Regions from separate parts of the Homo sapiens genome. Here region 2 is linked to region 1. Evidence: fine-mapped expression QTL. Tissue or cell type: prefrontal cortex. Region 1 holds a variant in brackets; the other region holds the start of a gene. All regions are shown on one strand. Distances are from middle to middle.

The links. PIP is the estimated chance that this variant, and not a neighbour inherited with it, causes the effect.
Region 2: LINC01622 starts here. The variant in region 1 is fine-mapped to the expression of LINC01622 in prefrontal cortex (CommonMind, PIP 0.95).

What each region holds. Positions count from the first base shown.
Region 1 is chr6:1,303,663-1,308,811 of GRCh38, reverse strand. No RefSeq gene overlaps it. Among named protein-coding and RNA genes, the nearest start is that of FOXQ1, 5.9 kb to the left of the region's middle. The variant C/TC (reference allele first, on the strand shown) is at 2,789.
Region 2 is chr6:1,099,027-1,104,175 of GRCh38, reverse strand. LINC01622 (long intergenic non-protein coding RNA 1622) reads left to right here and starts at 2,844. Exons shown (of 4, transcript NR_027116.2): 1 at 2,844-4,463. RefSeq lists enhancers at 1-87, 2,533-3,732.

The DNA.
Region 1 (5,149 bases):
CAGAGTCTCCCTAGGGGCATGGAGAGGGCCCTGACTTGGGGCTCGAGGTCAGGTGGCAGTGAAGGGCCTCTACAGCGATAAAGCCCAGCTGCCTCTTTACCTTTCCTCATAGTGAAAATACATGGGAAGAAAAGGAGTGCTTTGTCCAACTCTGTTCTAGCCCATTTCATGGTCTGGTTGATTCTTTTGGTAGATGCTGAACACTGGAAAAATCCTGCAAGGATTGAAGGTGAGTGTGGAAGTAGACGGAGAAAACTTAGGCATTTTTACGTGTCTGTATTTTTGCTTCTTTCCAAAAATGTTTTAATAGGGTCAGGCTCATTTGTTTGTACATTTACCATGTTTGTTTGAACAGTCTTCTTTCGGTTTCTTGAGCAATGGGCATGGTTTAATCCAAGAATCTTAGAATTTGGCTGGGCATTACTGACCAGGTGCAAAACCAAGGGCTGTGCCTGAAGTTTTCTTTTGAGACCTCAGGAATTATAAGCAGCAAGAAAGCCACTGGGTACCCATTGAATTAAGTAGTTATTGGGAGGTGGGTCCTGGGGAGTGGAGAGAGGCAGGGAGGCAGGCCTGATAATGGTGGAAAAGAGAAAAAGAAGGATAAAAGGAGGAGCAAAGATGTGCAGATACAAAGCTAGATCATCTACAGTACGACGAAGGTTAGGGGTCATTGAGAATGCTGCCTGATTCTGTCACTCAGAGACGAAATCCTGCACACTCTAGCACCATGTGTGAAAATACCAATGTAGGAAGGAAAGGCCCGGGGCTGATTTGTTACAAGGTGACAGCTTAGATAGTGGGATCATGGAGTCCATTCTTCAGAACTGGCTAGATCTTAGGAACCTCATTGTCTAGTTTTAGTCCAGTTTTTCTATTACCTGAAGTTCTTTAAATTTTGAGTTTTACAAGCAGAACAAGGAGATTTAACTTCTGTTTGCAATGAGTGATCCAGTTCTCTCTTTTTAACTTTGAGGCTGTAACCATCCACAATAAATTAGTAATCAGACCTTTCCTGATATGTATCAAAGAAGGAGACTGTCTTTCTATGAAGAGAACTGACGCACATCCTTGGAGAGGGCTCCATCATCATACTGTCATACAAATCTGGGCAAAAGAGGGGCAAGTGCCAAATGAGATCCAGTTTGGATACATGAATATTAAGTTGTACAAAAAAAACAAGGTCTTTGCAGGGCTTCCTGTGGAGCTGGGGAAGGGTCTATGTCCCTTGTCTTGGCCAGTAGTCCCTCAAACCTGGATCCACAGTCTAGGTTTATGCATTTGGAGTGGATATGGCGGGGTTAACTCTCCCATTTAATTCCAGAGAAGGCATTACCACTCTAGGTAGGTGTGGGCTTTGGAGACAGATAACCTTGGGTTCGTATCTCTGCTCTACCAGGAAAGTTACCACACCTCACCTTTTTTAAATCTAGAAGAATAACAGTTATAGGGATTTTAAAAACTGAACTACTATGTTCTAGGCCCTTATTAAGTATTATTTATGTCTCTCCTTCCATTTCATACTTGGAAACTTATTTTGGAGGGGTATACTATCTTTGTAAGCCCAGATAGGCAAATTCTTCAGAATTAATCAACCAAGTAAACTTTCCGGGTAAAAACTGGAAAAGTGAAAAATAGTTCCTGGAGGAATGAGATATTTCTTGGGGTCATCTAATCCTAGTCTATGGCCAATACCTAGCCGGTGTTCCAGAAATAAAAAGGAAAGTCAGAACCCCTTGCTTCAATTGTGAACAAGCCCCTTATTCAAAATTTGAGCAGGAGTTGAGTGCACAGTTGGGTTGCTCAGAGTAAAACCCATACTAGTAAATCATGTAGGAACAATGTGAGGAGAATATCTATCTATCTATCTATCTATCTATCTATCTATCTATCTATTCATCCATCCACCTATATCGTTTTTATTAGGCAAGATTTCAAGTATGTATAAAAGTAAAGAGAAAGGCATAAAAAGTAGCGTTCATTGAGAAAAGTGTTCACTGATCCTGGGGTTGTTTATTGTTTGTAGGACATTTTTTGATTTTACCTGGGTCCCTATGCTGAATATCAGTCACATCAATGTAATTACTTATTTGCTTTGTCATTCCTCTGTGTGTGTGTGTGTGTGTGTGTATGTATCTCAATCTTTCTATTCCTATTTCAGAATCTCAATTCCTGTTTTATTACTAACAATGTGATAACTGAAAACAGTTTGAATTTTACTTGTGGGCTTTGTTTTTGTTTTTTGGCCCTTAGGGTGTATATTCCATCATCTACACAGTCAAATTACCAAATTTTAATGTAACTTGAGATAATTGTTCTCTAGTGATTAAGCCGTCAACTTGGTATTCAGTGTCTTAGTCCACTTTTTGCTGCTGTAACAGAATACCTAAGACTGAGTAATTGATAAAGAAAAGACATTTATTTCTTATAGTTCTGGAGACTGGGAAGTCCAAGTTCATGACATTAACATCTGGCAACAGTCATTCCATGATGGAAGGGTAGAAGGTGGAAGTGAGCACAAGGAGGGGAGGGAAGAAGGGGGCTAAAATTATCGGGAACCCATTCTCACAATAACAGCATTAATCCATTCATGAAGGCAGAGTCCTCATGGTCTACTTACTTCTTAAAGACCCCACCTCTTAACAGTATTTGCAATGGCAATTAAGTTTTCAAGAGAAAAACTTTGGGAGCACATTCAAACTATAGCCTTTAGTTAGCACCATCTGGTCCATTTCATTTTTTATTTCCTTCATTTGTTTAACAAGTAAGTAATATTGACTTTTTTTTT[C/TC]TTAAGAGACAGGATCTCTCTATGTTGCCCAGACTGGTCTCAAACTTCTAGGCTCAAGCTATCCTTCTATCTCAGCCTCTTGAGTAGCTGGGACAACAGGTATGTACCACTGTACCTGGCTTGAATATTGACCTGGTTTTAAAGTCAAAGGTATAATATGAAGCATATTCAAGGAAATTTAGTTTTTATCCATATTTTTTCCACCTTGCTCCTTCCTCCACCCTATAGGTAACCATTTGATAAAACTTTTAAAATTACCCTTTATATTAGTTTGCTAGGGCTGCCAAACAAAATATCACAGACTGGGTAGCTTAACCAACTGAAATTTATTTTCTTACGGTTCTGGAGGCTGAAAGCCCAAGATCAAGGTGTTGGCAGGGCTAGATTCATCTGGGATCTTTCTCCTTGGCTGGCTGTCCTCACATGGTCTTCCCTCTGTGCATGTGCACCTCTGGTGTCTCTCTGTGTATCCACATTTCCTCTTCTTATAAGGCTAGCAGTCAGATTGGATTGAGGCCCACCCTAAAGACCCCTCATTTTAATTTCATTACTTCTTTAAAGACCTTATCTCCAATCCAATACAGCACTGAGGTACTGGGGCTTAGGACTTCAACATATACATTTTGAGAGGACACAACTCAGCCCATAACATACTTCTATTTAAAATAACTAAGCCAACATGGATGTATTTATATATCCCTCCATGTAGGTAGTGTTAAAATTTTATATACAGTTAGTTCTATCTACTTTATTTTCTTAACTTTTCAAAAAATCCTGGAATTCACTCCATGGCAGTATATAGAGATATTCTTATTTGTAAGATAATATTTTGACTGTTAATTGAGCACAGAATTTTCTGACATTGAAGGAAATGTATTGATTTTTTCATTCAGCTTTATGAGTTCAAAGATGGTAGGAAAGATATATGAGCCATAAAAATGGACAACCATGTATGGTTGGAATGCCCTTGAGGTCCTCATGTGTGCTGTCCTCTGACTTCATGACCTTTCTTGTTACATGGCCTATTTCCCCATGTAAACCAGAGACAAGAATATACATAAGAACAGCTTGGCCCAGAGACATGCTGTGCATACATGAGGTAGGACAGTATTCTGACCTTATCAGAGGTCAGTGATGCTATCTGGGCATGGATATCACAATATCAAGACCTTGGCAAGTGGAAATGGAAGCCGTGTAGTGGGTGGTACATGTTGCATGGTACACAGAGGGTCTTTGTAAAATGATATGCCCAGTTGTTCATGAGAACATTTTGTAGTTTTATTTATTTTTTTAAAATTATATATTTCTTATTTTTGTAGATTTGGGGATACACGTGCAGTTTTGTTACATGGACGTATTTCGTAGTAGTGCAGTCTGGGCTTTTTGTGTAACCATCACTCAAATAGTGAACATCGTACCCATTAGGTAATTTTTCAGCCCTCACCTACTTCCCTCCCACCTTTCTGAGTTTCCAGTGTCTACTAATTTTACTATGTCTGGGCTGGGCACGGTGGCTCACGCCTGTAATCCCAGTACTTTGGGAGGCCGAGGCGGGCGGATCAGGAGGTCGGGCGGATCACGAGGTCGGGCGGATCACGAAGTCAGGCGATCGAGACCATCCTGGCTAACACGGTGAAACCCCGTCTCTACTAAAAATACAAAAAAAAAAATTAGCCAGGCGTGGTGGTGGGCGCCTGTAGTCCCAGCTACTCAGGAGGCTGGGGCAGGAGAATGGCATGAACCCAGGAGGTGGAGCTTGCAGTGAGCCGAGATCAGCCCACTGCACTCCAGCCTGGGTGACAGAGCAAGACTCCGTCTCAAAAAAAAAAAAAAATTTACTGTGTCTGTATGTACATATTAGTTAGCTCCCACTGGTGAGCAAGAACATGTGTTATTTGACTTTCTGCTTCTGAGTTATTTCATTTAAGATAATGGCCTCCAGTTCCATTCATGTTGCTGCAAAAGATGATTTCATTCATTTTTATGGCTAAGTAGTATTCCATGGTATGTATATACCACATTTTCTTTATCCAATCATACATTCGTGGACAATTATACTCTTTATCCAATCATGTATGATTGTCCATCAATGTATGATTGGATAAAGAAAATGTGGTATATACATACCATGGAATATGTATATACCACATATACATATAGGTTAGTTCTGTATCTTTCCTATTGTGAATAGTGCTGTGATAAACATATGAGTGCAGATATCTTTTTATATAATAATTTATTTTCTTTTAGGTAGATACCCAGTAGTGAGGTTGCTGGATGAAATGATAATTTGATTTTTAGTTCTTTGAAAAATCTCCTGTTTGCCATATAAGTTGTACCAATTCACATTTCTACCAACAG
Region 2 (5,149 bases), 200 kb after region 1:
CGAAGCCCAAACAGTAACTGATGGTGTTGTCACCAATCTTGGCTCTGAAACTAGCATGTTTTAAATTCCTGCTTCTCCAAGCCTCCTGGGCATGTGCTCTGTAGCCAAAAAGAGCTGGTAATTACACGTGGCTTCTGAGGAACGAGGGTCCAGGCGCTTATCTGGGAAGGGAGATTGGTCCAGACCTTCAGCCTCTGGGCCCCATTCCTCTTCTCATTCTTCAGCGTAGCAACTTGTTCTTAAAGCAGAGGCTGATTTCTGTCTGCATCTCTCAAGCGGCACCTTTGTTTAGCCACTAAGTTTTCTCAAACTGGAAATCCATATGACGAAGTATAATTTTATGGTCTCCTATCATATTTGGTTTTTCTAGAAACATTCAAGAGCTTGTTCCTTCTCACTTAGACAATATTACTGTCATCAAGGTGTGTCTTCTCCTAGTTCCAGAACCACTTCCTGAATTTAAAATGCTCTTCTGGACATTTTTTTTTTTTCCAGATAATGGCAAAGAAAATTGGTCCAAAGAAAGTGGAAAATTGTCAGAGGGCAGTCACCACAATTTTTTTTTCTTCTGTTTTCACATCTGTTCAATCAATATCAGCTCCTGGCCTCAAGGCAGTGTGACCTAGAGGCAAGAGCCCTAGGAAGCTGGGGATCAGAGGACAGCATCTCATGCTGCCTTTAACCAGGGGCACCGTCTCACAGCAAACCCTTAACCTCTCTGGGTCAGGGAGCTCCTTTTTCAACAAAACAGGTTGGTCTAGATGGGTTCTCCTGTGCTTTCCAACTCTCTACTTTCTATTATTCTGAACTTCATGCCTCATTGTATCTGTGCGCCTCTGGTAGAGTTGGCATAAACCCAAGCATATGTTATTGGCTTAGAGAAAGAAAACATTTCTGGGTCTGTGAAATCATAGGCTTTGCTTGACGAAGCTTCGAGGTGTGCGGGCTCTCTTAGTGCAGCGCAACAAGCCATCAGCCGGCAGAAAGCTATTTCTGTAGCGGAGTGTTAAAAGACTGGTATTCTTCAGTGAAGAATAATCTGCTGAGGGCAATGTGTTTTTATTCCCTCTGGGATTTATCTGTCAACGGGCAGATGGGAGAAGAAGCAATAAACTATGAGCTTGCATATGTCAAGGCTTTGATTCTAGGGGGTGACTTCCAGGCCCTGCTTGAGTAGGAGACATTGTCAGGGAAGAAAATTTTGGACTCTCACTGTTACTTCCTGATCTCAGAACACAAAGCCTAGTTTTTGCTGAGTCTTTGAGGAAACTCCATGAGCACTCGGCTTCTCTCTCGTGTTTTCTGAAACCAGAAGTAGAGAGAAAGAGGCAGCTGAGCCCTACAGAACCAACCAACTGTGGAGACCAGCAGCGAACCCAGCGTGTTTGTCATTGGTTTGTGAATCTTATACGCTGTTCTCTTTGGGATACCTATTTCTCCTGGGTCTTTACATGGTCCTGGATCAAGAAACACCTTTTAACAACTCCCTTCAGACCCTGCACTCCCGTGCATTCAGAGGCCTCCTTGGCTTAGCGTGGTGGCAACCCCAGGGTCCAGGTGATTCTGTTGAAGATCTGAGAACAGAGCTTGCTTCTTCCTGCCACCCAGTTTGATTGGACCTTCTCCAGACTTCTGGGTGCATTTCCAGAGCATTTACACAAGGAATTATGTAGGGGTCATTGTGACAATGGTTGTTTGTGGCTTCTTTGTATAAACCTTCTGTATAGAAATTCCAGTTGATCAAACAGATAAACGGAGAGGTGATCAGTCACATTGCTAGATGACTTTTCTCTACCTAGGAAAGGATTCTTTATATATTTAAATAGGAACTCCTGTCCCCATTTCTTCCTGGCTCTGCCTTGCTCTTATCTTGACTGGTCCAGACATTTCCTGGCATCCAGGGCATCAGGGAGGCTGTAAGTCTGTGTTTGATGGTAGCTGTCCTTCTTCAAACTGCTGGCTGGAAGGCAGCGGTCCCTGCTGGGTCCCAGAGAGCTAGGAGTGCAGCTTGGAGAAGTCGGCTCTCTCATCGTGAGTCTTCCAGAAGAGAATAGTAGAGGACAGCAAGGACAAAGGGCGTGACCAGGAGACACATGGCTTGGGGGAAAGAGCACTGGCATGTACATCAGGAGGCTGGACACCAATCTGCTTCTGCCACCAGTTCTCAGGGCAACTGTAGGCTAATGAGGTCACCTCTAGGGGCTTTCTGTTTCTTCCCCCGTGAACTGAATACTGAATGATTTCTAAGGCAACTCTCAGCACAAATATATTATGATGCTTTAGCGTGAGAGAGGTGGGATTTGATGTGGGGAGGGCAGAGCTGAAACAAGCATTTGAAACTGACACTTCGGGCCGTGGTCGTTTAGAGATCTGTTAGAAGGGAAGACAGACATCTTTAGAAATAGATATCAATGAAGGGGAACTCTACTTGATCTATTAAACATCATGAATGTCCATCTGGCCCACTACTGGATCTTGAGGTTTTTGAGGGCAGGGACTCAGCCTGGCTTACTCACTGCTAGGTCACTATCACTAAGAACTGCACCTGACATGATACCCTCAATAAACAATTATTAAATGAATGAATGAGATGACAGTGGTTGCCGTTGCTTCTGCTGTCAAACACAGACTCCATTTCCTGTTTTCCAGGGTCCTGCCTACCCATCTGAGGACATGTCTGCTCATCACCCATGTGCATTCTGTCACAGTGGGACCTGTGTGTGTTCCCTGCTCATTGTCGTTTCCATGGTTTTGCTGATTCTATGCGATTCTTCCAGGCCACTCCAAGTTCCACCTCTTCCACGAAGCCCTCCTTGATTGCTGGGCCCTGGTTGAACTCCTTATTAGTAACACCCAGGTTAGTCCTACTTAATTCTTACCTGCAGCCAAAGTGGACTTAGCATCTCCTTGCATGCCTGGTAAAGTCAAGGGTTTTCAGCCAGGGCCTGTGTATAAAGCAGAAGCAGCACAGAGTCTGGTTTGAAGCTTAGTGCTTGGGTTCAGACAGTTGTGGGTTACAATCCCTTCTACACATGTTCTCTGTGGAAACCATTTGGTTCTCTGTGCTTGGAACTCGCCTGCAACGGGACAAAGCCATCTCACCTAGACTGTTGTTATGAAGATTGAATTAGGTGATTCTGAGAGGCATTTATGCGTCCTCCCTGAGTAACAATCCATGAAAAGTGGGCGTCATTGCTGAAGCTCAAGGAAGAAATATGAAATTTGATTATATCCTTATTCACGGCATTGGGTCACCAACTCAGCACTTTTTATGAAAGTAGCATCTGACCTGGCAAAGGCTGTGTCATCTTATTACCTCAGAAAGACAAATTTACGGGGTCAGACGATGGATGGCTTGTAGATTTCTCAATGGGCTGGAAGGAAGGAGAGAAAAAGAGAGACAGGAGAGAGTACACATTTAATTCTGCTTCCCCTAGGGTGATATTTCCTTCCTCCCCTTCCAGGGTTCTCAAAAAGGCATTCTAGGAAGTCCTGTAAAATACATGCTCATAAAAATCTCATAATTTCCACAAATTGTTGAGAATTTAAAACTCGGTTGGGAGTTTGCTGTTTCAGCCTGAGACACCGGGGTCACGTTTCAGTGCCTGCAGTCTTGAGACAGTACCAGGCATCTGGGATGAAGCTGAGGAAAGAAGATGTGGGGGCCCTGCTGGCCTGCTCCTTCTCTCGAAAGACGCTTACCGGCTGCTGGTGTGTCACAGGGCTTTAGGATTTGGAAAAACAGAGGGATTTAAAAGAAGATAGAATGGTCAGAATTTCGAGAACTGTGTGCTGAAGTGCCATCTTTAGGGTGCTCATAACACGGCCTTACAACATTAGAGGTGCTGGAATCATGGAAGAGGCATCTGGACTCTGTAATGTCCTTCCCCCTGGAAAATCTGCTCCAGAAGTGGGGGATTGGGAGCTGTCAACATATGAGCCATCTTTTGCTCCGTTCAAGATGGTAGGGGCATTCTCAACATGCCCCTCACTCTGATTCTGCCTCACTTTTATTTTAGAATTTTCCACTGCCTTTTCTGGAATGTGCTTTTTCAACCCTCAAAATCTGTAGAGAAGAAATAAGCAGAAACCGAAATGGCTTTCTGGTGTTCTCCATGCTCTCAGCTTACTGGAAAATCGAGCCGCAGGCTCGAGGCTGGACTTTAAGGCAGAGCACTGCAATTATAGTGCTATGGCCTTGGCTTCCTTTCTCATCACCCAGGTACAGTCCTGCAGTCCTCAGAGGATGCCAGTCCCACACAGGGGGATCCTTCTCCATAGGAAAACCGAGGAACAATGCAGGTTCGAGGTGCACAGTGGCTAAGCACACTCAGTCCTCAAGATCTTTCCTCTCAAATGCTAATGCTACCTTCAGATGGGCTGCTGCCTGCTACCATTTCAACATTGAGTCCTTTAAGATGCCATCAGAGAGAGGGGAAGCAAGAGGCCAAGAAAAATGAAAGGTAAGCACAAGACCAGTAGAATGAGTGGGGAGATCTGTCTGTCTGTCTGTCTGTTTGTTTGTTTGAAGTGTCTTCTGCTTGACTGCAGTTACTGTTCTTCAAGTGAGGGCGAAGCGCTTCTCTTCTCCTCTCTGATAGCTCTGCAGCTCTCTAAGTAAACTCTTTGACAAACACATCGCAGCAGCGAGTGGAAACATGTCTGAGACGCTGCAGCATAGCCCGGCTGGTTCTGTTCTTAGCAGTATTTGCTAAGTTCCATCCATTAGAATGTTTTTAAACAATGGGACGCATGTCATCTTGATTTGACAGGATAATCCTGAGTTTATAGAATTTCATCACAGTGTGTGAAACTGGTTTTTAACTTCACTATACTGGCCCTCAGCGGTGGAGTCAACTGGGCACTGAATAGAAAAATCTCCCTCCTCCGTGTTGTCCCCAGCCCACCACATTTCGCCCTAAGCTCTGCCCTGCACCAACACCAGCCTTCTTCTGGAGTTTGGCAGCTGTGGCAACTGCTGGCTGTCTCTCAACCACTTCACAATATGTATCAATGTATTCTACAAATCATTGTATTTGCCAAGCATTCTACTACTACACAGTTCTGATTCAACTGACGTGTATCTTAGAGGTCAATATATTTTCTTTTTCCCTTAGCTTGGCTAGGACTCCATAGGAAACAGCTATTT